4 linked regions of the Homo sapiens genome follow. The protein of the gene in region 1 interacts with the protein of each later gene in a pairwise test. Each region holds a gene or a part of one and is shown on either strand. Other genes may lie near its edges. The genes, in order: PCSK5, PLSCR4, VGLL3 and DBF4B.

What was found.
Region 2: the proteins of PCSK5 (region 1) and PLSCR4 interact in binary tests that used the Homo sapiens proteins (3 or more experiments, as listed by UniProt).
Region 3: the proteins of PCSK5 (region 1) and VGLL3 interact in binary tests that used the Homo sapiens proteins (3 or more experiments, as listed by UniProt).
Region 4: the proteins of PCSK5 (region 1) and DBF4B interact in binary tests that used the Homo sapiens proteins (3 or more experiments, as listed by UniProt).

Annotation. Positions count from the first base shown.
Region 1 is NC_000009.12:76,327,658-76,334,683, reverse strand, and holds part of PCSK5 (proprotein convertase subtilisin/kexin type 5 isoform 3 precursor), read right to left. Parts: exon of another isoform or gene 6,676-7,026; coding exon 6,445-6,675; exon of another isoform or gene 6,314-6,444; intron 3,765-6,313; exon of another isoform or gene 3,131-3,764; intron 2,252-3,130; coding exon 2,074-2,251; intron 1-2,073. UniProt on the Homo sapiens protein: Serine endoprotease that processes various proproteins by cleavage at paired basic amino acids, recognizing the RXXX[KR]R consensus motif. Likely functions in the constitutive and regulated secretory pathways.
Region 2 is NC_000003.12:146,199,096-146,206,121, forward strand, and holds part of PLSCR4 (phospholipid scramblase 4), read right to left. Parts: intron 1,983-7,026; coding exon 1,940-1,982; intron 945-1,939; coding exon 718-944; intron 1-717. UniProt on the Homo sapiens protein: Catalyzes metal ion-induced ATP-independent rapid bidirectional and non-specific movement of phospholipids (lipid scrambling or lipid flip-flop) between the inner and outer leaflet of the plasma membrane and participates in the redistribution of phospholipids between membrane leaflets.
Region 3 is NC_000003.12:86,974,124-86,981,149, forward strand, and holds part of VGLL3 (transcription cofactor vestigial-like protein 3), read right to left. Parts: intron 4,680-7,026; coding exon 4,403-4,679; intron 1-4,402. UniProt on the Homo sapiens protein: May act as a specific coactivator for the mammalian TEFs.
Region 4 is NC_000017.11:44,704,111-44,711,680, forward strand, and holds the start of DBF4B (protein DBF4 homolog B), read left to right. Parts: upstream 1-4,554; 5' UTR 4,555-4,710; coding exon 4,711-4,729; intron 4,730-4,741; exon of another isoform or gene 4,742-4,828; intron 4,829-5,189; exon of another isoform or gene 5,190-5,193; coding exon 5,194-5,256; intron 5,257-7,570. UniProt on the Homo sapiens protein: Regulatory subunit for CDC7 which activates its kinase activity thereby playing a central role in DNA replication and cell proliferation. Required for progression of S and M phases.

The sequences.
Region 1 (7,026 bases):
TCTTGGCTCACTGCAACCTTGGCCTCCTGGGTTCAAGCAATTCTCCTCCCTCAGCCTCCCAAGTAGCTGGGATGACAGGCACGTGCCACCATGCCTGGCTAGTTTTTGTATTTTTAGTAGAGATGGGGTTTCACCCTGTTGGCCAGGCTGGTCTCAAACTCCTAACCTCACCTCCCACCCACCTCGGCCTCCCAAAGTGCTGGGATTATAGGCGTGAGCCACCCTGCCCAGCCTGGCTGGTGTTTTTCAAGAGCTGCCAATGTGTGGCTCTGTGCTGAGTGTTGTAGAAGCAAATGTAAGACGTAAGAGGTGTTTTTCTTCCATGAGTTTATAATTTTCTTGGGAAGAGGCATATAAAAATAAGAATAAACTCTTAAAGTCAGTGATATGGTTTGGTTCTGTGTCTCACCCAAATCTCATCTTGAATTGTACTCCCATAATTCCCATGTGCTGTGGGAGGGACCCTGTGGGAGATGGTTGGATTGTAGGGGCGGTTTCCCCCATGCTGTTCTTGCTGTTGTGAATAAGTCTTACGAGATCTGACGGTTTGATAAGGAGAAACCCGTTTCGCCTGGCTCTCATTCTCTCTCTTTGCCTGCCGCTATCCACATAAGATGTGACTTGCTCCTACTTGCCTTCTGCCATGATTGTGAGGCCTCCCCATCCACATGGAACTGTAAGTCGAATTAAACCTCTTTAGTTTGTAAATTGCCCAGTCTTTGGGTATGTCTTTATCAGCCGCGTGAAAACAAACACAGTCAGTCTTTCTTTTACTCATCTTATTTATACATACAAAGTACTCATCATGAAATGTGTTAAATAAATAAGTGAATGAATGAGATAAATCAAAATGCAAGGCAGCATATAGCACTAAAATGAATGAAACAAGCAGTAACTGCTATAGGACCGAAGAGATGTGTCAATTTGGGTGAAAGCATTTGAGGAAGGTCTAAGGTTACAGCCCTTGATTTGGGTCTGGAAACTCCCAGTGCTCTAGGTTATTGATTGGGTAGAAAGAGTCAGCAACAGGCCTATCATCAATCTTTTACTCTTTACTGGGAATGCCTGGGGGAGAAAAAGGATATGCTGGCAATCAGACCTTCTGATAACACTAACAGTTCTTCCTAGCAGAAAAATAATAGAGTCCTTATCCATGAAATGCTTTTAGAAGGATACATCAAGTGCGTGTGTCTACGTTGTTTATGATAACAAAACCTGTAATTTGTGGATTTATAGGTGACATGACAGGTTGGGGAATTAATGGGGAATAAATGGAGATGTTAATGGAACTATTTCCTTTGTAAATCAATGTTCCACACTCACTGCTCTCCTCACATAAGCAGGTTGGGAGAATGTGAGACCCTGAATTTTAAATCTGAATCAGAACAAGTCCTGAAGGTGAAGAAAAAGAACCTCCATTAATGATCTTGGGCTTCTCTGAGGAAAGGATGCTTTGCTTCTGCCTTGTGATTGCTGAGACCCTTTGCCAAATTGTTTTAATTTTTAGAAACAAGGTCTTGCTCTGTCACTGAGGCTGGAGTGCAGTGGTGCAATCATAGCTTACTGCAGCCTCCAACTCCTGGGTTCAAGTGATCATCCCCTGCCTCAGCTTCTATAGAAGCTGGGACTATAGCCTGATGGCACCATGCCCAGCTAATCTTATTTTAATATTTTACAGATGGGGTCTCAAGATGTTGCCCATACTGGTTCAAACTCCTGCCTTAAGTGATCCTCCAGCCTCAACCTCCCACGTAGTTGGGATTACAGGCATGAGCCACAGTGCCCAGCTGCCAATATGCTTTGAATTTTCAGTAAGGACTGTCGTTGAGGAAGATCAATTGCTCAGGTGAGTCCGGCTTGACAATCTGACCCTTTGTGTTAACTCACTCGGTCACTCTGCCTCTCCTGTTTCTCTTCTGTTACTGTGAATTGGTTCATCTTTGCTCCTTACTAGCACTGAGACTTCAACCTGGTTTTATAAGTGTTCTGAATCTTAGTTTCCTCATTTGTAAAATGGGTTGATATCTGCTGTGGCTGTGAAATTACATGGGGGAAAATGTATTGAGCACTTACCCTTCCCTGCACTGGAGCAGGCACTCTTTTCCTAGCTGGAACCAGCCCGGTCGGCAGGAGTGGCACTGCCTGCTGTGTCTCCCTTCACATGTCCTGCAAGAGCTGTGGCAGTGGGCACACCGGTTGCTGTCCTCATCGGCATAATAGCCCTCTGGGCAGTCCTTCACACAGGTTGTGTCTGTCATGGGAGAAAAAATGTCTATTTGGACATCGAGCATGACACATGTCTCCCCTGTATTTTCCCTCTTGTGTACCATGGCGGGAGGGAGGAGAGGGCTGCAGGAGGAATGGGATGATCCTGTGAGCTGATGGATATGTTTGGGAAATAAGATTAGTGTCCAAGAAACAGAATTGCCCTAAGGCCATGAGGAATACAAGGAAAACAGAAGTCAGTGATATGGTTTGGCTCTGTGTCCCACCCAAATCTCATCAGTGATCCCATCTCATCTCATCAGAGATCCAAATCTCATCTGTGTCCCACCCAAATTTCTCAGTGGATTAGCTGTGGTGGGTAGAACAGAAACTACAGTCCGGCGCCTGTGGATGTTGGCAATGGCTCATTGTCCAGCTCATGTATCTGGTTAACTAGGGGGAAGCCCCAGCTTCCTGAAGGAAAAACACCGCCGTATTAGTCTCTTATTGCTGTTCCTATGAAGTATCCCCAACTTGGGGCCTTGAAACAACAATTTATTATCTTACTGTTCTGGAGGTCAGAAGTCCAAAATAGATCCACAGGGCTCTGTTCCTTTTAGAGGCTCTAGGAGGGAATCTGTTTCCTTTCCTTTTCCACTTGCTAGAGTCCACCTGCATGCCTTGGCTCATGGCCCCTTCCTCTGTCTTCAAAGGCAGCAGTGCAGTAGCTTCTCTCTGTCCCTCTGCTTCTGATCACATCACCTTCTATTACTGACTCTGATCCCCTGGCATCTCTCTTTTTTTTTTTTTTTGAGATGGAGTCTCACTCTGTCGCCCAGGCTGGAGTGCAGTGGCACAATCTTGGCTCACTGCAAGCTCCACCTTCCGGGTTCACACCATTCTCCTGCCTAAGCCTCCCGAGTAGCTGGGACTACAGGCACCTGCCACCACACCCAGCTAATTTTTTGTATTTTTAGTAGAGACGGGGTTTCACCGTTTTAGCCAGGATGGTCTCGATCTCCTGACCTTGTGATCCGCCCACCTCGGCCTCCCAAAGTGCTGGGATTACAGGCGTGAGCCACCATGCCTGGCCCACCCCCGGCATCTCTCTTATCAGACCCTTGTGATGGCATTGGGTCTACGTGGATAATGCAGGATAATCTCTCTATGCCGAGATCCTCAACTAAATCACTGCCCCAAAGTCCTTTACCAAGTAGAGTAATACATTTACAGGATCTGGGGATCAGGATGTGTCATCTTCAGGGGGGCCATTATTCAGTCTACCACGATGTCCAAAAAAAGTATCTAATTTATAAATAGCCTGACCCTGGTGGTGTGGTGGTGTGGGACAGGGTAGAGAGAATGTGAGGATACCAGGCTGAGCAAATCTGCACCCATTTCCCAGGGGGACTACAGCTCTGTGTCCTATACCAGCACTGAAGCCTCAATTCTAGTCTAATCTGCAGCCTCGGATGAGGGGAAGACCACTTTGTGGAGGCAAGCTGTCTTCTCTATATGAAGGCATCTGAGATGATTACTGGTGGCACTCTAGATTGGACGTAAGTAGAAAAGAAGGTCCGACGGGGTGGGATTACCTGGGAGACGTGGCTGGAGGGAATGCTTTTATGAAGCAGCAACTGCTGGGAAGGAGAGTCACAGAGATTTGTGGACCAGGAGCTAAGGTAGATGGATAGAGAAGACTGGTCTCTTTGAGTGTTTTCTATTGTGAAGTGATCAGGAATGGTATTGAGAATAGGTCTCCCTGTGTCTTAGCAGGGGGATGGTGTCCTCGCTCAATATGAAGAGGAAAAGCTTGCCATGCATGTCTTTAAAACATTTTTTTTTAATGTTTAAAATTTTTAAATTTAAAATTTTAATTTTTTTCCATTTTTTGTAGAGATGAAGTCTCACTATGTTGCCTAGACTGGCCTTGAACTCCTGGGCTCAAGCAATCCTCCTGCCTCGACCTCCCAAAGTGCTGGGATTACAGGCATGAGCCACTGCGCCCAGCCTACCACACATGTCTATTTGGAGTTTCACGCTTCTCAGGTCTACTCTCCTGGTGGGGGAGAAAAGTGCTCATACTTCCTGGTCTTCACCATATTCATCTCTCTCTTCTGTCTCCTATGACTTCTTTTTTAGTTAAGTTTTGTTTCATTTTCTTTCTCCCATGCTTGTTTTAAGCCTAGTCACAGTATCCCTGGGAACCTGAGGACATTGTTTCATATTAGCAATAACCTTCAACTCTGATCTGTGGGACCGTGGCCAACCTTGACCTGTGCCACTTTTTGCTCAAGAGGGATTTCTTAATCAACCATGCTAAATGGAGGGGAAATTTTGATGAGGAGCTGAATATCTACATGTTCTTAAAGTGTAACCCCACAGGCTACTTATTAGTTACAAGGGAATAAATAGTAATTATGCAGTAGGGAAACTGAACATCTTGGCCAGGTGATCAACATTAATATCACCGAGGAAAGGCATGTGGAGATCACGTTCCTCCAGGTGTGACTCTCGGAGGATACAACATCACTTCTGAAGTATGCTGGCCAAGCATGCACACTCTGCAACTGATCACGGGCAACTTCACAGTCACCCGAAAGGAAAAATGAAGACTGTATTTTTCCTTTCTTTTCTTTTTTTTCTGAGATAGAGTCTTGCTCTGTTGCCTAGGCTGGAGTGTAGTGGTGCGATCTCGGATCACTGCAACCTCTGTCTCCCGGGTTCAAGCGATTCCCCTGCCTCAGCCTCCCGAGTAGCTGGGACTACAGGTGCCCACCACCACACCTGGCTAATTTTTGTATTTTTAGTAGAGATGGGATTTCATCATGTTGGTCAGGCTGGTCTTGAACTCCTGACCTCATGATCTGCCCACCTCAGCCTCCCAAAGTGCTGGGATTACAGGTGTGAGCCACCGTGCCCAGCCAAGACTGTATTTTTCTAAAGCATTGATATTGTGAAAGAAAAAGAAAGTGTGTGGAAACATTTCATATTAAAGGAGGCTAAAGGGACATGGAAGGGCCTGGCATAGTGGTTCATGCCTGTAATCCCAGCACTTTGGGAGACTGAGGCAGGAGAATAGCTAGAGCCCAGGAATTCAAGACCAGCCTGGGGAACACAGTGAGACCCTTGTCTCTAAAAAGAAAAAAAAATGGCTGGACATGACATGGAAGGGCCAGGCATGGTGGTTCATGCCTGTAATCCCATCCCATCTACTTGGGAGGCTGAGGCAGGAGGATCTCTTGAGCCCAGGAGTTCAAGGCTGCAGTGAACCATGATCGTGCCACTGCACTCCAACAGCCTGGGTACTGCGCCTGGCCAACTTGTCTCTTAAAACAAAAAACAAACAAACAAAAAAGTGGCCGGGCGCAGTGGCTCACACCTGTAATCCCAGCACTTTGGGAGGCTGAGGAGGGCAGACTGCTTGAGGCCAGGAGTTCAAGACCAGCCTGGCCAACATGGTGAAACCCCGTCTCTACCAAAAATACAAAAAAAAAAAAAAATTAGCCGGGAGCGATGGTGCCCACCTGTAATCCCAGCTACTCAGAAGACTGAGGCATGACAATTGCTTGAACCCAGGAGTCAGAGGTTGCAGTGAGCCGAGATCATACCACTGCACTCCACTCTGAGCAACTGAGTGAGACTCCTTCCCAACAAACAAACAAACAAAAAAGGGACATGGAAGCTAAATGAAACAACTGACTCTAGCCTGAATCCTAAAGGGGCACTGAGAAAATTGTAATATGGATAGTATATTAAAGTATTGTATGAATGTACAATTTATTAGAGTTGATAACTATCCTGCGGTTATGTAAGAAAATATCACTAATCTGAGGAAATAGGCACTAAAATATTTATGGGAAAGGGGCCATGATGTATGCCTTCAAATGGCTTCGAAAAATATGTATTGGGAATGATGTACATGTATACATTGAGAGAGTGAGAGGAAGAGAGCGATAGAGAGAGAGAGAATGAGTGAGAAGGGGGGAGAGAGCCCACGAACAAATGATAAAGCAAATGGTGTAGAAGATGAGCAATTTGCGAACTGGATGAAGCACATCCGTGCGCTGTTCTTTGTACAGTTCTTACTCTTGCATCTTTTCTGCAGGTTTGAACATTTCCCAAACACAAAGCAAAAAATCAAAAAGAAAGAAGCCAGTATCTACTGGACAAGGCAGTGTGCAAGGCAGTTTCCCAGAGAGATGGAAACACAAAGCTGTCCTCGGAGAAGTAACTCACTGAGAAGAAGGCTGTTCATGGGGCATGTTTGACACTGGTCCTCCGCCGGCCCCATGCAGTGGAAGCACTTAACATGGCAGGGCTTGCACCCGGGAGCATCCTCATCCCAGTACTCGGAGGGTGAGCACTTCTCGTTGGCCATGCAGCTCCCACGAGGGTTCATGATCAGGCCTTTCTGACAGGTGGTGCAGGTCCCAGATGATGAGCAGGTCAAGCAGGACTTGTGGCAATCTGTGGGCGTGGAGGGGCAGCAGACAGAGTGAGCGAGAGCCAGGGTGGCCCTCGTGGGAATGGCTTCCCCTGGGAAAGGGTCTTCACATTCCTTTCACATTTCTTCCGGAGATTTCCAGAGCTCTGGGCCAATGGTGTGGGGCCATGAGTTGAGTACAGCCCTTGAGCTCTGGGGTGGACCATTCTTTTGCAAAATGAGAGAAAATTATTATTTTATTTTCTCTGTTGTATCCAGAGAGGGCTTTCCTGCAATAGCCATCTCAGAAATATTAGTAAGGCTCACTATAATTACCCAAACTGCAACAAAATAATAACAAGCCATTCTGTAATGGCATCGAATTTTCCACCGTC
Region 2 (7,026 bases), on another chromosome or scaffold:
TTAAGTATTTCAGTAATCCTATGATGTATTATACTACCCAGTTTATGTATAAGAACACTAAGGCTCAAACAGGTTAATTAAATTTTACAGATTTAAGTAGGTGACATATCTAGAATTCAGACTCTGTTTGGTTTCTCTCCAAAACCGCTTCTCTTTTCCCTACAGAAAATAACTTGCTTAGAAATGCAAGATAATGAGTAACCACACTGTAACTCAGCACATCTGTATTCTAGTTCCAGCCCTGTCCTTAGCCAAATGTAACACCTCAGCCATTTAGTAATTTTGAGCCACTCTTTATCTGTGGCAAGGTATGCGTTGTGATGGGTACTCTAAACATATTTAAGTCCCTTCCAATTCTAAAAGCATATGTTTATCTTTAGCATTGCTTTATCTAGTGATAGGTACGTACATTTAGATAAATGTGGTAGGTAAATTTCTAATTAAGTAGATGCAACTGATGGAATCATAATTATTGACTACACATATGTCAATTGTGCTTGACCCACTTATTTAAGCACTAAAAAGTAGTAACCAAAAAGAAAAAATCCTCTATGATTTTCCTTAGGCGAGACAATTTGGTTTCCTCCCTCCCCACTATCTTCTTCCATTCTGGCTGGCAGGGCCAGGGAATATCCTCCCTATGTAGTGGAAGGAGCACACTATGCCATGAAGAGTTAGATCAGAAGCAAGCTGTGGATCAGACTTCCATTCTCTGACCTCTTGTCTGGCAGAGGGGCAACAGAAGCAACAGCAGGTGCATCTGAAGGGTCTCTGCATTGTCATGATTTCTCGGCCCATACAATCAGTGACCCGGAGGACGAAGGGCCTTAGTGTCCGATAGGCATTCCTGGTAAAGTCATCTGTGTCTTCGGTTACAATGTAAACCATCTGGTCTGAGTTGTTTTTAATATCATATCTATTATTAGTTTCAAAACATGTCATCACTAAAAAATAAAATGAGTAAGTCTATATTAGAAACATTTAAAATGGGCCTCAGAAAGTCCTTGTTTAGTATTTCTTAAGGGCTTAAAGCAACATAGCTTTTTTAAAGTTTCAGGTGAAATATGTAGAATTGATTAGAGTACCCCAAAAATCATATTATCTAAAAGTATTTAAGCAATTGTGAAAATTTAAAACATTTCTTTTAAGAAGTTCAGTGTAAACATTAAAAAAATTTTACATAAAAGAAAAGATTGAAACAACCCTTTTGTTTCAATTCCTGGAGTATCTGAATTCAGAAAACTTTAATTATAAAACCATTTAAAAAAATTATACATTTGACCATTAATTAATCAGTTCACGAAACATGCTTGGAGGAGTAGGGTCATTACTAATTACAAACAAGAGAACAAACCAAGAAAAGTCAAAGGCCCTATGTGGTGGCCAAATGAATGTGCACAGCTGGTTTAGTGAGGGTCAGTACTCTTGTAGGATGAACTGAGAACAGGCATCATTTTGACTGAGATCTTTTCTTCTTACTTCCAAAGCGAGGGCACTGCACTACGATTTGGCAGATTTGGATTCTATTTCCAGCTCTGCCACTGATTAGCTGACTGTGGTTTAAATGCTATTTCCTGATCTGGAGGTGATTAGCTGACTGTGGTGTCCCTGGCTAACTCATTTAGTCTCTTGGCTCCTTTTTTTACTCATCTTTGAAAGGTAAATGTGGAGTAGGAACAATGGGTAAAGTGTAGGGCTATTGACCAGATAAAATGTAAGCCCTTTTCAAATCTAAGAGCTTATGATTATATGATGTATAGAAGGATAAAATTATACAAAATAATTCACTTTATTACTTTCTTGAAGATAGGGTAATAGAGCAGTTTTTTTTTCTTTGAGCCACTAAAACATGATCAATATAAAGAAGGAACTAGATATTGGATAATGCAAATTTCCATCTGATTAAAATACTGCTGAGCACTACAAAAATTATACATACTTTCCAGAGGCTCAAAATGCTGAAGAACATGTATGTTGTCCAACTGTTGGGATAAAACAAAGCAATCAGAAGACAGAAATAACAGAACTAAAATACCACTGTAAAATAAACTGATGAAATAGATATTAAAATGCATCAATTGATACCAAAATATATTTTTGAAAGTCAATAGAATCAAAAAAATTTTACCAACTGAAATTAGCTTATCTGCATCTGATCGGATGGATATTAGCAGAGTTGTCCATATTAGAAAAACACTTTCTTTCAGTACCACTTTAAAAAAGTTGTCTGCTATATCAGAAAAACAAAACATCTACTTGCTGTAGTAATCACATCAGAAGAAGCTGTGCTTATAGATTGTTCCTAGATAAGTCCCTACTCACTGGTCTCTCTACATGTCATCCATAGCCTGTAGTTGTTTAGTTAAGTTCAGAACGATTAACACGGACCAGCCATAGAAAAGGGAAGTCTCTCAGTGGCTTAAGGAGAACAAACAAGCCAGGGTGAACCTCACATGGAGTGTCCCCATTTTATATTATTTTACAGGTACCTCCAGCAGAGGTTTATAAACTGACTTGCATTCACTTGATCTACAAAGGCCAGGGTCTTCCCCAAGTGCACACTTTAATAAGGGAAGGGTCTATTACACTAGGAAGCATGTGAACAGGATTAGGGGAAGAGAAAGGAAACATTGTTAGATGGCAACCCATGAAAAGGACGGCTGGGTATATACCATTAGAGAAATTTCTATCTTAGGAATCATTCTAAAGATGAGCAGTTTGATGGGCACATTATCTGTTACATGTGAGAACATTCTAGCAGAAGAAAAGAAACCTTCTTGAGGACACACTGATTATATTTGTATAATTTTACATCATTTAGACCATTAGACCATTCCTAATCCCTGAGCCCAGAACACTGCCTGAAGTGCCATATTTCACCAAACATTGGTTAAGTACATTAATTAATGAAGAATATATGAATGCAGTAATACATGAAATTAAAATAATGTACCTAAACACGAATGTTTTATGGTGTGATTAATTACAGGAGGGTACAAAGGGCACAATCTATGCTTAATTAAAACCTTTTTCTTACATAAAAACACAATGACATAAGGAGACATAAATATGCCTCATAAAATACCAAAAGTGACTACTAAAATGGTTTATAGTCCATTTTAGAAAAGTAGGGTATTAAAATCTAGAAGTGAAAAGTAAAAATATAAACTACAGGCATACTCTGAAGATACTACAAGTTTGGTTCCAGACCAAGGCAATAAAGCAATTATTGTAAGAAAGTGAGTGACATGAATGTTTTATTTTCTTATTGAATCTAAAATTATGTTTACACTATAATGTAGTCTACAGTGTGTGTAAGAGTATTAATCTAAAAGAAGTATATATCTTAATTTTAAAAAACTTTATTGCTAAAAACTGCTAACAATCATCTGAGACTTCAGCTAGTCACAATCCTCTTGCTGGTAGAGGGTCTTGTCTCTATGTTAATGATTGCTAAATGGTCAGGGTGGTGATTGCTGAAGCCCAGGTTGGCGGCAGCAATTTCTTAACAAAAGATAATGAAGTTTGCCATATCAATTGACTGACTCTTCTCTGCATGAAAGATTTCCTTGTAGCACATGATGTTCTTTTTAGTACTTTACCACAGTAGAACTTCCTTCAAAATTGGAGTCAATCCACCTAAAAACTGCCACTGCTTTATCAATTATATTTGTGTAGTATTCTAAAACCTTTGTCATTTCAACAATGTTCACAGAATTCTCACCAGGAGTAAATTTCATCTCAAGGAAGCACTTTCTTTGCTTATACATAAGAAGCAAGTGCTCATCTGTTAAAGTTGTATCATGAGTTACAGTAATTCAGTCACATCTGCAGGTTCCACTTCAAATTCTAGTTCTCTTGCTGTTTCCATCATATCTGAAATTACTTCCTCCACTGAAATCTTGAACCCTTCAAAATCATCATAAAAGTGGCAATCAGCTTCTCCCAAACACCTGTTAATGCTGATATTTTGACCTCTTCCCATGAATCATGAATGTCCTTATTGGCATCTAGAATGGTGAATCCTTTCCACATGGTTTTCAATTTATTTTGCCCAGATCTGTCTGAGAAATGACACCATCTATGGCAACTATAGCCTAACGAAATTCATTTTTTTAACAATAAGACTTGTAAATTGAAATTATACTTTGACCCATGGGCTGCAGAATGGATGTTGTGTTAGCAGGCATTAAAACAACATTAATCTCCTTATACGTCTCCATCAGAGCTCTTGGGTGACCAGATGTGTTGTCAGTGAGTAGTAATGTTTTGCAAGAGACCCTAACAGGGAAGTCAGTCTGTCCTTTGAAGTTTTCACGTCAGGCGTTGACTTCTACTTTTTAGCTATGAAAGTCCTAGAAGGCATCTTCTTCCAACAGAAGGCTGTTGCATCTATATTCAAAATCTGTTGTTTAGCAGAGTCACCTTCATCAATGATCTTGTTATAGTTAGGATCTTCTGAAAAACTTACTGCAGCTTCTACATCAGGACTTGCTGCTTCACCTTGCACTTCTATGTTACAAAAGTGCCTTTTTTCCCCCCTTAAGCCTTGTGAGCCAACCTCTGCCAGCTTCAAACTTTTTTTTTCTGTAGCTTCCTCACCTTTCTCAGCCTACATAGAATTTAGGAGAGATAGGGCTTTGCTCTGAATTATGCTTTGGCTTAAGGAAATGTTGTGACTGGTTTGATCTTCTTTCTAGACCACTAAAACTTTCTCCATATCAGCAATTAGGCTCTTTTACTTTTCACCATTCATATGTTCATTGGAGTAATATCACTTTCAATTTCCTTCAAGAACTTTTCCTTTGCATTCACAGCTTGGCTAACTGGTGCTAGAAGACTAGCTTTTGGCCTATCTCAACTTTCAACATGCCTTCCTCATTAAGCTAAATCATTTCCAGCTTTCTTATTTACAGTGAGAGATGTGCAATTGTTTCTTTCACTTGAACACTCAGAGGCCATCACAGGATTATTAACTGGCCTAATTTCAATATTATTGTGTCCCTTCCTGGAACTCAATAATATGTGTCTGTTAAGGGGTAGTTCTTTGACAAATTGGTAAAGTCACTGGTAAAGCCAAGACTCTGAAAATAATATAATCGTGCTAATTTGGATGTTTTAGGATTCTTGGGAACCTTGATAAAGATTCATGTAATCTTCATGTGAGATCTCAAAAAGACTAGGGTAGATAGAGGAAAAAGATTGGCTCTATGTCTTGCATTCACACATAAGAAGGTATTTAAGCTAATAACAGCCACATAGCTTTCATCCATTGGGACGGCCCTTTATGTCAAAAATATTAGGCACATTGTGACCCTTATCTCATTAAAAATTCTCCTAACAATCTGGTAAGGTAGGTATTGATAATACTATTTTATAGATGATAAAATTCAAGCAGCAAGAGGTTAGAAATTTTATCAAAGTTTTTGAGTTACTAGAGAGTAGGACAGAATTAAAAAACCAGGTTTGCCTGGGTCCAAACCTGTGTTTTGTTTATTTTTTCACTTATTTCTTTAACTCTAAATATTCCTAAAAGGGAAAACTCATAAAATACGTTAAATTAACCTCTGTCAGAATCATAAAAGAAATTAAGAAACAAGTTTTTAATATTTAAATAAACAAAGCTATACAATTTGAAAAGAGAATTGACTGTAGAAGATGTTAGATTCCCAAGAACAACTTCTGTATTTATCACCAAGTATAGAAATGAGACTTTCTAAACTTGATAAGCTACAAACATTTTATTATCTTCTGAAATAATGTAGATGTTTACTCTAGCACTTCACCTGAATGAGTTTTGCATTTTGTCAAAATTTTGTCCAAATAATAATTTAGGATAAATTTTGGCTTTTGTAAAATCCAAATTTTCCTGATCCAACTGTATTGACTTCTATACACCAATGTTATAATATTATACAAATAGTTTTCAGCACACAAGATTATCAGGGTCCCTGTCAATATACAGAATTGAAAAGAGAAATGACAGAACTCGAGGAAATACTTGGCTGTTGACCTGGGGAGGTAAGTATTAAATTGGGAAGTTTCTTCTTTATAATGTATTTCAGCACTTCCTTTTTCTATAAACAACAACAAAAAAGATTCAGAAGGTTCTATGGAATCTCCAATAAAGTAGTCTCCCTCTTATCCTCAGGGGATACTTTCCAAGCCCTCAGTGGATACCTGAAACCACAGATTGTACCAAATCCTGTATATACTATGCACAAATTTTTCTTTTCTTCTTTACAATTTCATGGACATATTAATTTTACTATAGATCTTAGTAACCTTAGCATAGGAATTTTTTTATTATTAAGTAAAAAACCTTCACCTTTACATGGAAAGGAAGACCTTATGGCCTCTCTTTGGTCTTTCCTTGACATATCCAAATTCCCAGCATTACTACTCTTGTGCTTTGGAGACATAATTAAGTAAAATAAGTTACTTCAATGCAAGCACTGTGATACTGTAAGTCAATCTGATAACCAAGATGTGACTCTGGGTCTGTATACTATGGATAACATCTACAGCGTGGATACACTGGACAAAGGAATGATATATGTGCCAGGCAGAACACAGCAGGACTGTGCAAGATTTCATCATGCTACTCAGAATAAATTTAAAATTTATGAATGGTTTATTTCTAGAATTTTCCATTTAATATTTTTGGAACCTGGTTGACCATTGGTAACTGAAACCGCAGGAATCAACGCCACAAATAAAAGGCGTCTACTCTGCCAGCTTTATCTTATTTTCATTAAGCAGGTTTTTTAGTTTCAGACATGGGTTTTTAAACAAAACTATTTGTGCACAAACTTCCCATATTACCCCAGTTTTTGATCTGCATGTCCTGGTGGCAGCAGAATATCTACATAGATGTTAATTAGGGAGTTATTGTGTTGTATGAAGGGGGTCTCTGGAACTTGGCCTGAAGCAATATTCTTTGTAGGGTCCATTATTTTTATTTATATTGTTTGTTTTTGGGGGTGACAAGAGTAGCTAATGAAAATGATGGGTGGTGGTAAAAAG
Region 3 (7,026 bases), on another chromosome or scaffold:
TTTTTTTTTTTTTAGATAGAGTCTCACTCTGTCACACAGGCTGGAGTACAATGGCATAATCTCGACTCACTGCAACCTCCACCTCCCGGGTTCAAGCGATTCTCCTGTCTCAGTCTCCTAAGTAGCTGAGATTACAGGTGGCTGTCACCTTGCCTGGCTAATTTTTTGTGTTTTTAGTAGAGATGGGGTTTCACAATGTTGCCTAGGCTGGTCTCGAACTCCTGACCTCAGGTGAACTGCCCGGCCGCGGCCTCCCAAAGTGCTGAGATTACAGGCATGAGCCACCACGCCCAGCTAGTTAGGTTTTCTTAATGGAAAGAAATGAAATTCTTTCAACCCTGTTAGAATATATAGCAGGATTAGAGGTAACTGATAAGACATTGTGCCAAGTAAAATACATATACTTCCTATCATTGTTTGCCTTACAGCTGAAAAACACCTAAAAAAACTTACCTAGCTTCATGAAGGAGATATACATTCAAAGTATAACCATTCTTTCATTATTAGCTGACACACTATTCTTTGTCTAAAGATTTACCGTGTAAATATATTCTTAGTCAAACACGATTCAGTTATTAAATTTGTTTGTAGCATGGTAGCACTTCTGTGGCACTGTAATAACTTTATGCTGTAAACTAGACCCTTTAATACTCGGTCAGCAGTTCCTTTCTAAGCATCATTGCCATGGCCACTAACATTATCATTAGCCTTTAGTATCTACTATTATCTAAGACTGTGTGTTTTGTACCAAAAACACAAAGTTCCAGAAAACAATGTTCCTGGATAAAGGCTCAGGGTTTGTTTTCTATGTGTCAAATGAGTGGAAACTTACTTAAGGAAGAGAGAAAAGGCATCTGGCTTTCATTTAGCACCTTGAGTCAAGCTCTATGCTAAATTATTCATATACATTATTTAAAAATCTTTACAATAACTCTATGAGATGGGTATCAATAAACACATATTACAGTTGAGGAAGTTGATGTAAGAGATTTCAATTTAGTAATCCAAGATCACATTGCAACCAGAAGGTAAAGGCTGGAACATGAATCTAAAACAAATGGACTCCAAAGACTGTATTTTCCAATCCTGTGTAGCTTTGCCAATTAATATTAAATTGTCACCAACTCTCTCATTTTATGAGAATAAAAATGTGAGTCTCATTTTATTGAACCTCTTCTTTAAGACATTTTCTATATTTTTAATTATCGTTTGTGGCTTTCCTATAAATCCTACACAAGTTTTATATATTTATCTAAATCTGTCTAATTCACAACTTAAGACAATTATGACAAAGATCTAAGAAAAGCAAATAATACCTTTGAAATTACAGAACTTTACAGAAGAAAATATTTTTACCAATTATTTAATTTAACCCCCTTATTTTATAAATTAAAAAAAACTGTACCCAAAGAGTTCATATAACTTATTACCAAGAAATTTTCTATTAAAGACTCTTGTTTTCTAATTCCGGATACATGGTATGAAATTGGTTCATTTAATTCAGTCACTTAATCATTCAATGCATATCTATTTCAGATTTTCCACATAGAAACACATTGTTGTGAGCATCAGAAAAAATGAGGCACCATAAGAAGATATGGTATTTGTAGACTTAGTGGGATAATAGGAGATGAAAATTGAAGCGCATGCTGTGTGCTCCTGGTATATGCTGATAAACTGATGTAAAAAGCTCTAAAACAGTGGGGCGCGGTGGCTCACATCTGTAAGTGTGGCTCCGAGCACTTTGGGAGGCCGAGGCGGGCAGATCACCTGAGGTCAGGAGTTCAAGACCAGCCTGGCCAACATGGTGAAACCCCGTCTCTACCAAAAAAATACAAAAATTAGCTGGGCATGGTGGAGGGTCCCTGTAATCCCAGCTACTCAGGAGGCTGAGGCAGGAGAATCGCTGGAACTGGGGAGGCGGAGGTTGCAGTGAGCCGAGATCGCACCACTGCACTCCAGCCTGGGTGACAAGAGCGAAACTCCATCTCAAAAAAAAAAAGTTCTAAAGCATCTGTTCTCCACCTATTACTTTGCATTTCATTCACCTCACACCAGCATCTTTGCTTCTCATTGAATATTCTAAGCTCAGTCCATCTTCAGGGCCTTTGCACTATCTGTCCCTTCTGTGTAGAATTACTTTCCCCTAGGTAACCACATGATGAGTATTCTTATTTCCTTCAGCTATCTGCTCAAACATAACTGTGCCACACAGGGCTTTTGTTATCACCTTATGTAAAATAACATATTTTGTAACAATTGTTTGTTTCCTGTTTCTACCCTAAAAGCTCCATGAGGGTAGAGCCTTGGGCTGTCTCAGGACTTAGCACATTGCCTAACACATAGCAGGAGGTTAATAAATGTTTGCTGAATATGTCAATGAATAAAACAGGAGACATATTTGAAGATCAAATTTAAGATAGTTCCAAGAAAACTTTAGTAGTAGTTATGAAAACATTGCCTTTATTAACCCTTTCTATGCTACAGTTTAACATCTGCTAAAGGAACTTGTGTAATGTGTTTTGCAAATTACAGAGAAAATGCTGATGTGTTGTAGGGTTTCTGCACATTCACAACATCCCACTAAAAATTATTTTGAATATGATTCTATAGACAATCACTCTCACACCAAGAAATAATTTGGGACATTAATTCTGATTTTTCAGTTTAAATGATAGCAAGGTTGCATATGCCCATGTGCTAAAAGAAGTAGACATTATATTTATTACTCTCCTGGCACTGATTATCTTAATAGGATTCATTATTGATATATCAAATTATTTATTAAAGCCATCTAACTCACTAATGTTTTCCTATTTTCTTCCTCTACAAATTATTAAAATTATTCATCACGTCCTGTTAAATAGGACATTAGTCTATTACATAAGCATCATAGGCTTCCAAGGACTAAGTCTCAGTTCTCATAGTAAGCCCATATTATTTACTAATCAAATAACTAGTATGTTTTTCAGTTCATTTCCATCAAGGCCTTGGATATTTTATTTGTATTCCACCTTCCCCTTTATAGTCACTGTTTAGTGTTGTTTATATTTACTAAAAAGAAAAGTAAAGAAGCAAAGAAAAAAAAGAAGGAGAGGAGAGGAGAAGAGGCAAACAGGGAGGGAAGGAAGGAGAGAGGGTAAGAAGGGAGGGAGGGAGAGAAGAAAAGAAAGGTCAAGTAGGTAAGAAAAGATCAGGCCCAGCAATTCCATGTGGCCAGGACTTCTACAGTAGAGCAGAACCATTCCTGTGCTGCCCAGAAGGTACCACTAGTCACTGCTCACTGCTCACCTGGCCCTGCCCACAGGTAGCCAGCTTTTCCTCATGATAGGAATTACCCAGAGCCCTTGTTAAAGTGTGATTCCCACACCTTCCTATGAAGATTCTAGTTCAATAGATTCGAGATAAGGGGGTCCTGCAAACTGTCCTTAACAGGACTAGATCAATGATTATCAAACTCTGCACTGGAGTCACTGGGAGGGCTGGTTAAAACACAGATTGCCCCACCCCAGAGCTTCTGATTCTGCAGGTCTGGGGTGGAGCCCAAGAATTCGCACTTCTAACAAGCTCCCATGTGGCACTGATGTTCCTGGTCAGGAAAATCACACCTCGAGAACCATTTTACTAGATCATTCCTATAACCAGGTGAATTTGGAAGAAATCACCACTGTAGCAAATTTCTCTGAAGCTGTCATTGGAATGACGTATTATGTTTTTATCTAACCCTGTAATTACCCTGATTTAGATGTCACCAATAATTTTCTATGAGTCAGAAATCAGTTTCAAACACATCTCTGTGAGCTCGATACAGAGAGAAATAAAGGAGTCCAATGTGCTGCTCTTTCTTTATCAAGGTAAAAACACTAGTTTAAGCCATGTGGATGCTGCCAAAATGCCTAGAGTGTATACTATAAAGAGTTAATACAATAACAAATCAGGATAAAGAAGCCTATTCAAAGAACACAGACAGCTTTCAATGTCTGTATTCCTGGGTCAGACTCAGGTCTCTGGTATGTCACCACATAGCACCTATTGGAATGAGCAAGAGCTAATTTTTTAAAAGCTGATTTAGACACGCCTATTATTTAGAGATCCAAATTGGGCCACTGGGGCTTTAGGAATGGTACTTCGCAGCTCAGTGCAGCCACTATAAACTCAAGCCGGTTGTATCACTACTTTCCATGAGGAATTTAAGGGGTGTGACTGCATCCTTTCCAACCCTACATTCCACATGTGACAAAACCGATCCAGCTGTTTGTCTGAAAGAAATTCCTCACTGTCCTTAAATATTAAAAAGCAAGTGGATATCCATCCTCAGGGGCAAGTCTCCAGCTGGAACCTGGTACAGGCAGTTGCGAAACAAAGACAGTGCCCTGGAGAACATCTGCTTTTGAATTCTTACCTCGCCATAGGGGGGTTAGCCCCATCTTGCTTTTTGAAATGGCAGATTCTGGATGGAGGGTGATGGCTTGGCCCAAAGCTCTTGAGAAGTGTTCATCCACTACTGACCCAATGTCTCCCTGGAAATAAGTGAAAAGGACACAGCGAGAGTTAAGGTACTCCATCTCGGCAGGCTGGTCTTTCTCCTCCTCCTCCTCCTCCTCATCCTCCTCCTCTTGTTTGCTGGGAAGGGTGACTTCCAGAGAGTCCTGCATCTTGCTGAATACCGCTAACTTCTTCTGGGATGGAATAAACAAAACACAGTATCAAAGACAGTTTGTAGAAAAGCATTCACTAGTTAAGTTTTCACTTTTTTAAAAAAAGAATCTAAATATTAACATATGTTTGCAAACTGATTCTTCTTCATCTGTTTTACTCCATCTTTTTCCTCCCCAAACCAGTTGCCTCCTTCCCACACTAAAAAAAATACAACAAAAACTCTGTGATTCTACATTTGGCAAACGAACATAAAAGCCCATTATCAAATAGTATATTTTCAATACAAGATTTTGTTTTTGCTTTTGTTTTTGTTTTGCTTTTTGTTTTTTCATCTAGCTAGGCCAACAGGAGAATTACTTTTTTAAAAAGTTTTTCTTCCCAGTTTTGGTTTATTTTTAAAAATGCAATGTACAGCAGTGTTATGGTTTAGGACAGAGAGGAATGACTGTCTGGGGGTGGAGTGGAGAAGAAAAGAACTTTTCATAAATAAAATAAACTAAAATAAAAACAGGAATGTAGCATCTTATAAAAGGATTTGGCAGATGTGCTGAACTCATGTCTTCAAAAATCAAACTAAAATGGCAAAATAAGTCTGTGTGAAGATGCATTTTGCATGGAACATATTTTTTAGATGTTCCGTTTACCACCATTATCATGAGGGGAAAAGATTTCATTATGGCTTAGTGAAAATATTACAAAATACTAGTAGTGGGTTAATCTTTCAATTAAAAATGAGAAAGATTTGTTAATTTAAAATGTTTAAAAATATAATTCTAATAATAATATACATTATTTCAGACATGTTTCTAAAACTTTATATTTATCACCTCACTTAATCTTTACAATTCTATAACATGGCTATTAATACTATCCATATTGTAAAGATTAAAAAGCTAAAGCACAGAAAAATTAAGTTACTTGCCAAAAGTCACAAATCATGTAAGCTGCAGAGTCAGAATGCATAAGAAAAACATACAGGTATAGACATGTGTGTGCATATATATGTTCTGAGGAATGGCAGGGAGGGATATCTAGCATATAGATATGCGTGTGCATACATTTGGTGGGGAAAGGCAGGGAGGGATATCTAGAGTAAAAAAATTACAAAAATGTATTTTGTATTGTTTTTCTGTGTAATACGTTTATAGTTAATTGTCATTTTCTTATTTCTGCTTTTCAGTATTTCCAAACATTTTTCACTGAGCACATATTCCATTTATTATCAACTTCAATGCGAATTACATATAAGGAGATAATGCTAAAGATATGAAATGTATTATTCTAGTGACGAAATGAGCTTTCTCTGTCATCTTTATGTCTGCAAAACCTGATCCTTGATCATACCTTTTTTTTTTTTTTACTTTGAAAAAAACGCATGCTGGAAAATGAATGTGAGTAGAAATAGATAAATCACTCCAGAATACCCAGTAATTTTTCAAATGTTAGCAAAATACATACCCCAGACTCTATATTTCTAATGTAATTACTAGCTTCAATATCTATAGCTTCAAATTATAAATGCACCATTCAATAAATTGGTCCCTTTCCCCTAGCAGTGAATATGTTGTTCTTGTATAAGGTGAGTACTGAAATATTCAGAAATACTATGAACTTCTAGTTATCGTTTCAGGATGGTTATTTATAAATATGTGTTTTGCTTTTATTTAAAATTCGTATCAGTATGGTTATGATTTGTTGATGAATAGATAATTCATACTTTGTAAGTGAATGTGCCTTGCTGATGAATAGATGATTGCTTTTATTTCTCATAATCTACCTCTGCACAGATTTGAACATGTTTATATTTAACTTCAATAGTATAAACACCATAGAAACATATGGTATGTGTAAAATGAGGGAATCGAACTAAATAACCTCTAAAACTATTCCTAGTTTTAAATTCCATTAAAAAATTAAATGAATATTATGATTTATTAGTCAAATCACAGTGCTGCTTCTTCGGGTGCATGTGTATTTACCTAAAACATGTATTGTTTTAACCATATGCACACACTCTCTGCTGAATATTCGGGCACATTAGAAAGCAGCTCTGTTTTTCTATGAAAAAAAAAAACCCTAAAACCTATCTACATGGTGGCATCATTGTCCACAAGTGTTCATTCTTATCCGTGAAACTAATTTCTTTTTTCTGTTAATGTCCAGCTCAGCATCAGTTTGTGAGAGTGGGGCTTTGCATATAAATGCTTTATTTGTTTAATTGTAACATTCATTCTTTAAATAGAAGAGCCTGGCTACATTAACAATCCAAATAAAGTCAAAGTTTTATTTTATCCTTAATTGACAGCAATTAATTCTTAGATGAAATAAAATTGAAGTTATATATATGTAAAGGATTTGAAGGCCATG
Region 4 (7,570 bases), on another chromosome or scaffold:
ATGGCTGTATAGTATCCCATGGTGTATATGTACCACATTTACTTTATCCAATCCACCATTCACGGGGTACCTAGGTTGTTTCTATGTCTTTGCTACTGTGAATAGTGTGGTAATAAACATAGTGCAGGTGTCCTTTTGGTAGAATGGTTTATTTTCCTTTGGGTATATACCAAGTAATGGGATTGCTGGGTCACATGATAGTTCTATTTTTAGTTCTTTGAGAAATCACACTGCTTTCCACAGGGGCTGAACTAATTTACATTCTCACCAACAGTATATAAGCATTACCTTTTCTCCATAGACTGGCCAACATTTATTATCTTTTGGCTTTTTAATAGTAGCCATTCTGACTGGTATGAGATGGTATCTCATTGTGGTTTTAATTTACATTTCTCTGATGATCAATGATATTAAGCATTTTTTCATGTTTGTTGCCACTTGTATGTCTTTTTTTAAGATATGTCTGCTCATGTTTTTGCCTTTTTTTTTTTTTTTTTTTTTGAGACAAGGTCTTGGTCTGTCGTTCAGGCTGGAGTGCAGTGGCATGATCTTGGCTCACTGCAGACTTGACCTTCTGGCCCAGGTGATCCTCCTACCTCAGCCTCCCAAGTAGCTGGGGCTGCAGGCATATGCCACCAGGCCTAGCTAATTTAAAAAAATTTTTATATAGATGGGCCTCCCTATTTTGCCCAGGCTGACCTTGAACTCCTGAGCTCAAGTAAAGCCTCCTACCTTGGCCTCCCAAAGTGTTGAGATTACAGGCATGAGCCCCTGCATCTGGCCTTTGCCCACTTTTTAATTAGGTTTTTTTGTTGTCGTTGATTTATTTAAGTTCCTTATAGATTCTGGATATTAGTCCTTTGTCAGATGCATAGTTTGCAAATATGTTCTCCCATTCTGTAGGTTGTTTACTTCATTGATAGTTTCTTTTGCTGTGCTTTGGAAGCTCTTTAGTTTAATTAGGTGCCAGTTGTCAATTTTTTTTTTTTTTGTCGTAATTGCTTTTGAGGACTCAGGCTGATATCTAGACAGTATTTCCTAGGTTTTGTTCCAGAATTTTTAGTTTGATGTCTTACATTTAAGTCTTTCATCCACCTTGAGTTAATTTTTGTATATGGTAAGAGGTAGGGGTCCAGTTTCATTCTTCTGCATATGGTTAACCAGTTTTCCCAGCATCATTTATTGAACAGGGAGTCCTTTCCCCATTACTCATAGGTGTACAGCTTTATTTTTGGGTTCTTTATTCTGTTCCATTGGTCTATGTGTCTATTTTTATGCCACTACCATGCTGTTTTGGTTACTGTAGCCTTGTTTAGTTTGAAGTCAGGTAATGTAATGCCTCTGGCTTTGTTCTTTTAGCTTAGGATTGCTTTGGCGATTCAGGCTCTTTTTTTCATTCTATATGCATTTTAGAATAGTTTTTTTTTCTGATTCTGTGAAAAATTACATTGGTAATTTGATAGGAATAGCACTGAATCTGTAGATTGTTTTGGGCAGTATGGACATTCTAATGATATTGACTCTTCCAATCCATGATCATGGAATGTTTTTCTATTCGTTTGTGTCTTTTATTATTTCTTTCAGCAGCAGTGTTTTATAGTTCTTGTAGAGATCTTTCACCTCCTTGGTGAGATGTATTCCTAGGGATTGTTTTGTGTGTGTGGCTCTTTTTTTTTTAATGAGACAGAGTCTCGTTCTGTTGCCCAGGCTGGAGTGCAGTGGGGTGATCTCGTCTTACTGCAAGCTCTGCCTCCCGGGTTCATGCCATTCTCCTGCCTCAGCCTCCCAAGTAACTGGGACTACAGGCACCAGCCACCACACCTGGCTAATTTTTTGTATTTTTAGTAGAGACGGGGTTTCACCATGTTAGCCAGGATGGTCTCGATCTCCTGACCTCGTGATCTGCCCGCCTCGGCCTCCCAAAGTACTGGGATTACAGGTGTGAGCCACCATGCCCGGCTGGCGCTTTTTTTTTTTTTTTTTTTGACAGAGTCTCGTCACCCAGGCTGGAATGCAGTGGTGTGAGCTTGGCTCACTGCAATCTTCGCCTCCTGGGCTCAAGTGATCCTTGTGCCTCAGCCACCTGAATAGCTGGGATTACAGTTGCACACCATCACTCCAGGCTAATTTTTGTATTTTTAGTGGAGATGGGGTTTCACCATGTTGGCCAGGCTGGTCTCGAACTCCTGGCCTCAAGTGATCCACCCTCCTCAGCCTCCCAAAGTGCTGGGATTACAGGTGTGAGCCAACATGCCCAGCCTGTGTGTGTGGCTGTTGTACATGAGATCACATTCTTGATTTGGCTCTCAGCTTGAACGTTATTGGTGTATAGAAATGCTACTGATTTTTGTGTGTTGACTTTTTTTTAATCCTAAAATTTTATTAAAGTAATTTATTGGGTCTAGGAGCCTTTTGGTGGAGTCCTCATGGTTTTCTAGCTATAGAATCATATCATCAGTAAGCAGAGATAATTTGATTTTCTCTTTACCTATTTGGATGCCTTTTGTTTCTTTTTCTTGCTGATTGCTCTGGCTAGGATTCCCTAAATACATTTATATTTTAAAGTATTTTCATTTTTTGGAGTTGCATAGTGTTGCACAGTATGACTACACCATAATTTATTTAACCTACTGCCCGTTGTTAATCAATATTTTCGTTGCTTTTGATCTTTTGGTATTGCAAACAATGCTGAGGCAGATACCTTTATTATACAAATTCTGTCACACATGTGAAAAAAGAACATGCTGAACCATCTTGCCTCTTAAAGTTTCTGCTTGGAAGTGATGTCACTTTTTTCTTTTTTCATGAGCCAAAGCAAGTCATATGGCCAAGGCTTCGTTCGTTCATCAGGGCTGAGATGTATAAGCTTCCTCAGGGAGGAGTCCCACTGGAAGAGATACCAAGTTTATGTACTGTATATACCTCTACCAGTGTTTAAAAAATATCACCCTGGGCCAGGCGCGGTGGCTCACACCTGTAATCTCAGCACTTTGGGAGGCCGAGGCGGATGAATCACCTGAGGTCAGGAGTTCGAGACCAGCCTGGCCAACCTGGTGAAACCCCGACTCTACTAAAATACAAAAATTAGCCGGGCATGGTGGCAGGCACCTGTAATCCCAGCTACTCGGGAGGCTGAGGCAGGAGAATGGCCTGAACCCGGGAGGCAAAGGTTGCAGTGAGCCAAGATTGCGCCACTGCACTCCAGCCTGGGCGACAGAGCGAGACTCCCTCTCAATAAAAAAATAAATAAATATAAAAACTATCACTCTGGTTGCTGAATGGAGAATGGATTATACTGGGGAGAGATAGGAAGCTACTCGGGAGTAGAAGTGAAGAATTGACCGCAGTACTTTAGGCAAGAAATGATAGCAGCTTGAACTAGGGTGGTGGTGGTCTGATTCCAGATGTACTTTGGAGGCAGAGTTAGTAGGATTTTTTTCTTGGAGTGGGGATGGGCACAAGGGAAAGTACTGAAAGACAACTTCTAGGTTTTTGGTTTGAGCAACTGGGTGAATGATTGTGACATTTGAGTAAACAGTAACATTTTACTGAGAGGGGAAGACCTGGGGGGAGAACAGGTGGTTTTTTGACAGGGGCAGCGAAACAAATGTTCTGTTTTGAATGTGTTCAGCCTGAGGTGCCTATTAGACATCCAAATTGAAATAGCCAGTAGGCACTTGAATATGTGAGTCTGGAGATCAGACAGGTCAGAGCTACAGAAAATCTGAAGGTGTGGCAGAGCTGAATTGTAAAGCTGTGGAGCTGGATGAGATCTCCTAGGGAGATAAGGGAGAGGGATAAGGGCTAAAGCGTTGGCATACTCCAAAATATATAGGTGAACAGTGGCTTTGGATCCAGCAAAGGGGACTGAGGAGGAACCATTGAGATAGGGAAAAAAACGGTAGAGTGCTGAGTCATGGAAGCAAAAAGAAGAAAGTATTTCAAAGAAGGAATAGTCCATCTATAAGTTGGATATGATAAGGATAGTATTTCAGACTGTGGAAATCACAGTTGACCTGGATAAGTACAGTTTTTGTGGGGAGGTCCCCAGCTCTCCACTGAATGATCTCTTATTAGATCAAATTTGATCTCTAATTAGCAGTCTAATTAGATGGGTTGAAGAAAAGATGGGAAGTGAGGGATAAAGATACGTCTTTTGAGAAGTTTTGTTGGGCAGGTAATAATTGAAGAACGGGAGGGGGACAAAAATGTGAAGATGAAATGATGTGTAAGTGAAATCTTTATGTAAACTGCAAATGCTCTGCAAGTGTTAGGCTTATTTTGTTATTTAGTATTCAAACTTCTAGGAATTTCAATGCAGCTCAGTGTGAAGAATCACTAAAAAGCGACCACTAGTCCTCAACTTGAGGGCCATTAAGGGGCAAAGCCGTCTAGCCAGTGAAGAGCCAAGAAATGAAGAGACGGTTTGAGAAGACGTAGGCGGTGGGGGAACGGAAAGAGGAATCGCGAAACTAATATTGTCCTTCCAAGGACACCGTAGGGCGGATCTCGCAGCTACGGCGTTCTTTTAGGGGTGGAGCCGGCAGGAAATTTAAACTGAAGCCGCGGCCGAAAACGCCAAGAGATTGATGCTGTAGCTGCCCTGAGATAACCAGGACTGTGGAATCGGGAAGAGCTCATGGAGCTCGCGAATGTAATACGGAGGCCTCTGAGGAAGGAGTACGGAGGCCGAGAAGGAGCCGGCATTTGATGAGCGAACCGGGAAAGGGTACGGATGCCGGGAAGGGGAGAAAGAAAGGCGGAAGGGGTCGTTAATAGCTGAGGCGAGGTGCGGAGTCGTGGAGGGGGCTTAGGAAGTGACCAGCGGGTAGGTGCCGAAGCTGAGGAGGGTATAGGGGCCGGGAAGGAGCCACAGGAGTTGAGGGGACCGAGGAATGAAGGTGGCAGAGGAACGTAGGGGACAACAGCCTGGAGGGATGTATGGAGATTGAGATGGACAGGAGGTGGCCAAGAGGTCACGGCCGTTGACTGAACGGAGTCTGAAAGGAGGCGGAGGGCATGAGGGGCAAGAGCCTGGCGGGAGTCGCGGGATGTAGGTCGGAATGGAGTTGAGTCTTGCTGTTCCCAGGAGTCGCGTTTCTGTGCGCGTTTTGGGAGACAGTAGTGGGCGGGAGGCATGGAAGTTCCAAGGGTTGGTGAAGATGGTTGAGTTGCTGTTATGTCCTTTCTCAGGAGACGATTGCCTCGAGCTGGAGAGTTCCATGGCTGAGAGTAGGCTCCGGGCCCCGGACCTAGGTGGGTAACAGGACAGAACTAGGGACGTGAGGTGAAAATTGCCCCAGGGTCTCTTGGAGAAGACCGAAAAATGTTCCCCCTGTTGGAGTTTTCGATCACTCAGTGTTTTTATGTACTTATTTATTCATTTTATTTATTGGGATGGGGTCTTGCTGTGTTGGCCAAGCTGGTCTCAAACTCCTGGCCTCAAGCAGTTCTCCTGCCTAGGCCTCCCAAAATGCTGGGATTACAGGTGTGAGCCACTTCACCAGGCCCACTTAGTGGTTTTATGTGTGTGTGTGTATGGACGCAGCATCATAGACCGTTTTGGGATTCATGATAAAGGTCAAGTAAGAGTCATATTATGAACAAGATTAACAGACAGATGTGGAGTCAGGATAGAGTGACTTATTAAATATATAAATTAATACATTCATAGTTGTTTACAATAAAATCCTTAAGTTAAACACTGCTACCTAATTAGGTAAGTATTTTAGCACATGGCACTTCCCTCCGTACTGCCCCTTTAGTTAATATCATCTAGTTGGCCGGGCGCGGCTGCTCACGCCTGTAATCCCAGCACTTTGGGAGGCCAAGGCGGGCGGATCACGAGGTCAGGAGATTGAGACCATCCTGGCTAACACAGTGAAACCCCATCTCTACTAAAAATACAAAAAATTAGGCGGGCGTGGTGAGGCGTGCCTGTAGTCCCAGCTACTCAGGAGGCTGAGGCAGGAAAATTGATTGAACCCAGGAGGCGGAGGTTGCAGCGAGCCGAGATTGCGCCACTGCACTCCAACCTGGGCGACCGAGCGAGACTCCGTCTCAAAAAAAAGAAAAAAAAAATACCGTCTACTTTTACTTCTGGATTGTTAACAGATATGCCATCGGCTTGTTGCCTTTTAAACAGTAATCCACTTCATTTACTGAGTTATTCATTCTTCCCATCTCTTGTTGGTTTTTTTTCCCCCTTCTGTTTCTCTGGAGAACTTCAAGAGTGTTTTCAAAAGGAGGCTTTGTGTGATAAACTAAGAATATATTTATTTCAGCCTTGTAGTAAAATTTAAGTCAATTTTTTTTCCTTCAACACATTGAAAAATTACAGTATTTTCTCCTTGTTTTCTTCAGCATTTCTTTTTTATTCTTGCTGCTTTGTAAGTGACCTCCTTTTCTCATTAGATGTTTTAGATTATGTGAACCTATGGATTATATTGATGAAAGAAAAAAATGTTTTATTTTATTTATTTTGAGGTCTTGCACCCAGGCTGGAGTGCAGTGGAGCAATCATGGCTCACTGCAGGTTTGGCCTCACCGGGATCAAGTGATCCTCCCACCTCAGACTCCCAGGTAGCTGGGACTGCAGGCACTCAACACCACGCCCAGCTAATTTTTTTTTGTTGTTTGTTTTGTAGAGACGAGGTTTTGCCATGTTGCCCAGGCCGGTCTTCAACTCCTGGGCTCAAGCGATCACCCTCCTCAGCTTCCCAAAGTGTTGGGATTACAGGAGTGAGCCACTGCACCCAGCCCAATATTTTAGATTATACATTTTTATATTTGTTCTTAAAATTTACTATAAGATGATAATGTGTGGATTTTAGAGGGTTTTTATTTTCGTTTTTATTCCAGTTTGATTTTTTTTTTTTTTTTTTTTTTTTTTTGAGACAGAGTCTCGCTTTGTCGCCCAGGCTGGAGTGCAGTGGCACCATCTCGGCTCACTGCAACCTCTGCCTCCAGAATTCAAGCAATTCTTTTGCCTCAGTCTCCTGAGTAGCTGGGATTACAGGAGCACGCCACCATGCCCGGCTAATTTTTGTATTTTCACTAGAGACAGGGTTCCACCATGTTGGTCAGGCTAGTCTTGAACTCCCGACCTCATGATCCACCTGCTTCAGCCTCCCAAAATACTGGGATTATAGGCGTGAGCCACCACACCTGGCCTCCAGATTGATTCTTTAAATTTTTTTAAATTATTATTTTATTTTAGAGACAAGAACTTGCTCTGTTACCCAGGCTAGAGTACAGTGGCACAATCATAGCTCACTGCAGCCTCAAAGCCCTGGGTGCAAGCAATTCTCCTGCCTCAGTCTCCCAATCTCCTGCCTCAGTCTCCCAAGTAGCTATGTCTTCAGGTGCATGTCTCCACACCTGGCTTCCTGTTTGATTCTTGACATAGCTTAAAAGGCAGGCCATGTGTGGTGGCTCACACTTGTAATCCCAGCACTTTGGGAGGCCAAGGCAGGCGGATCACCTGAGATCAGGAGTTCAAGACCAGCCTGGGCAACGTGGTGAAACCCTGTCTCTACTAAAAATACAAAAAACAGAGCCGGGCGTGGTA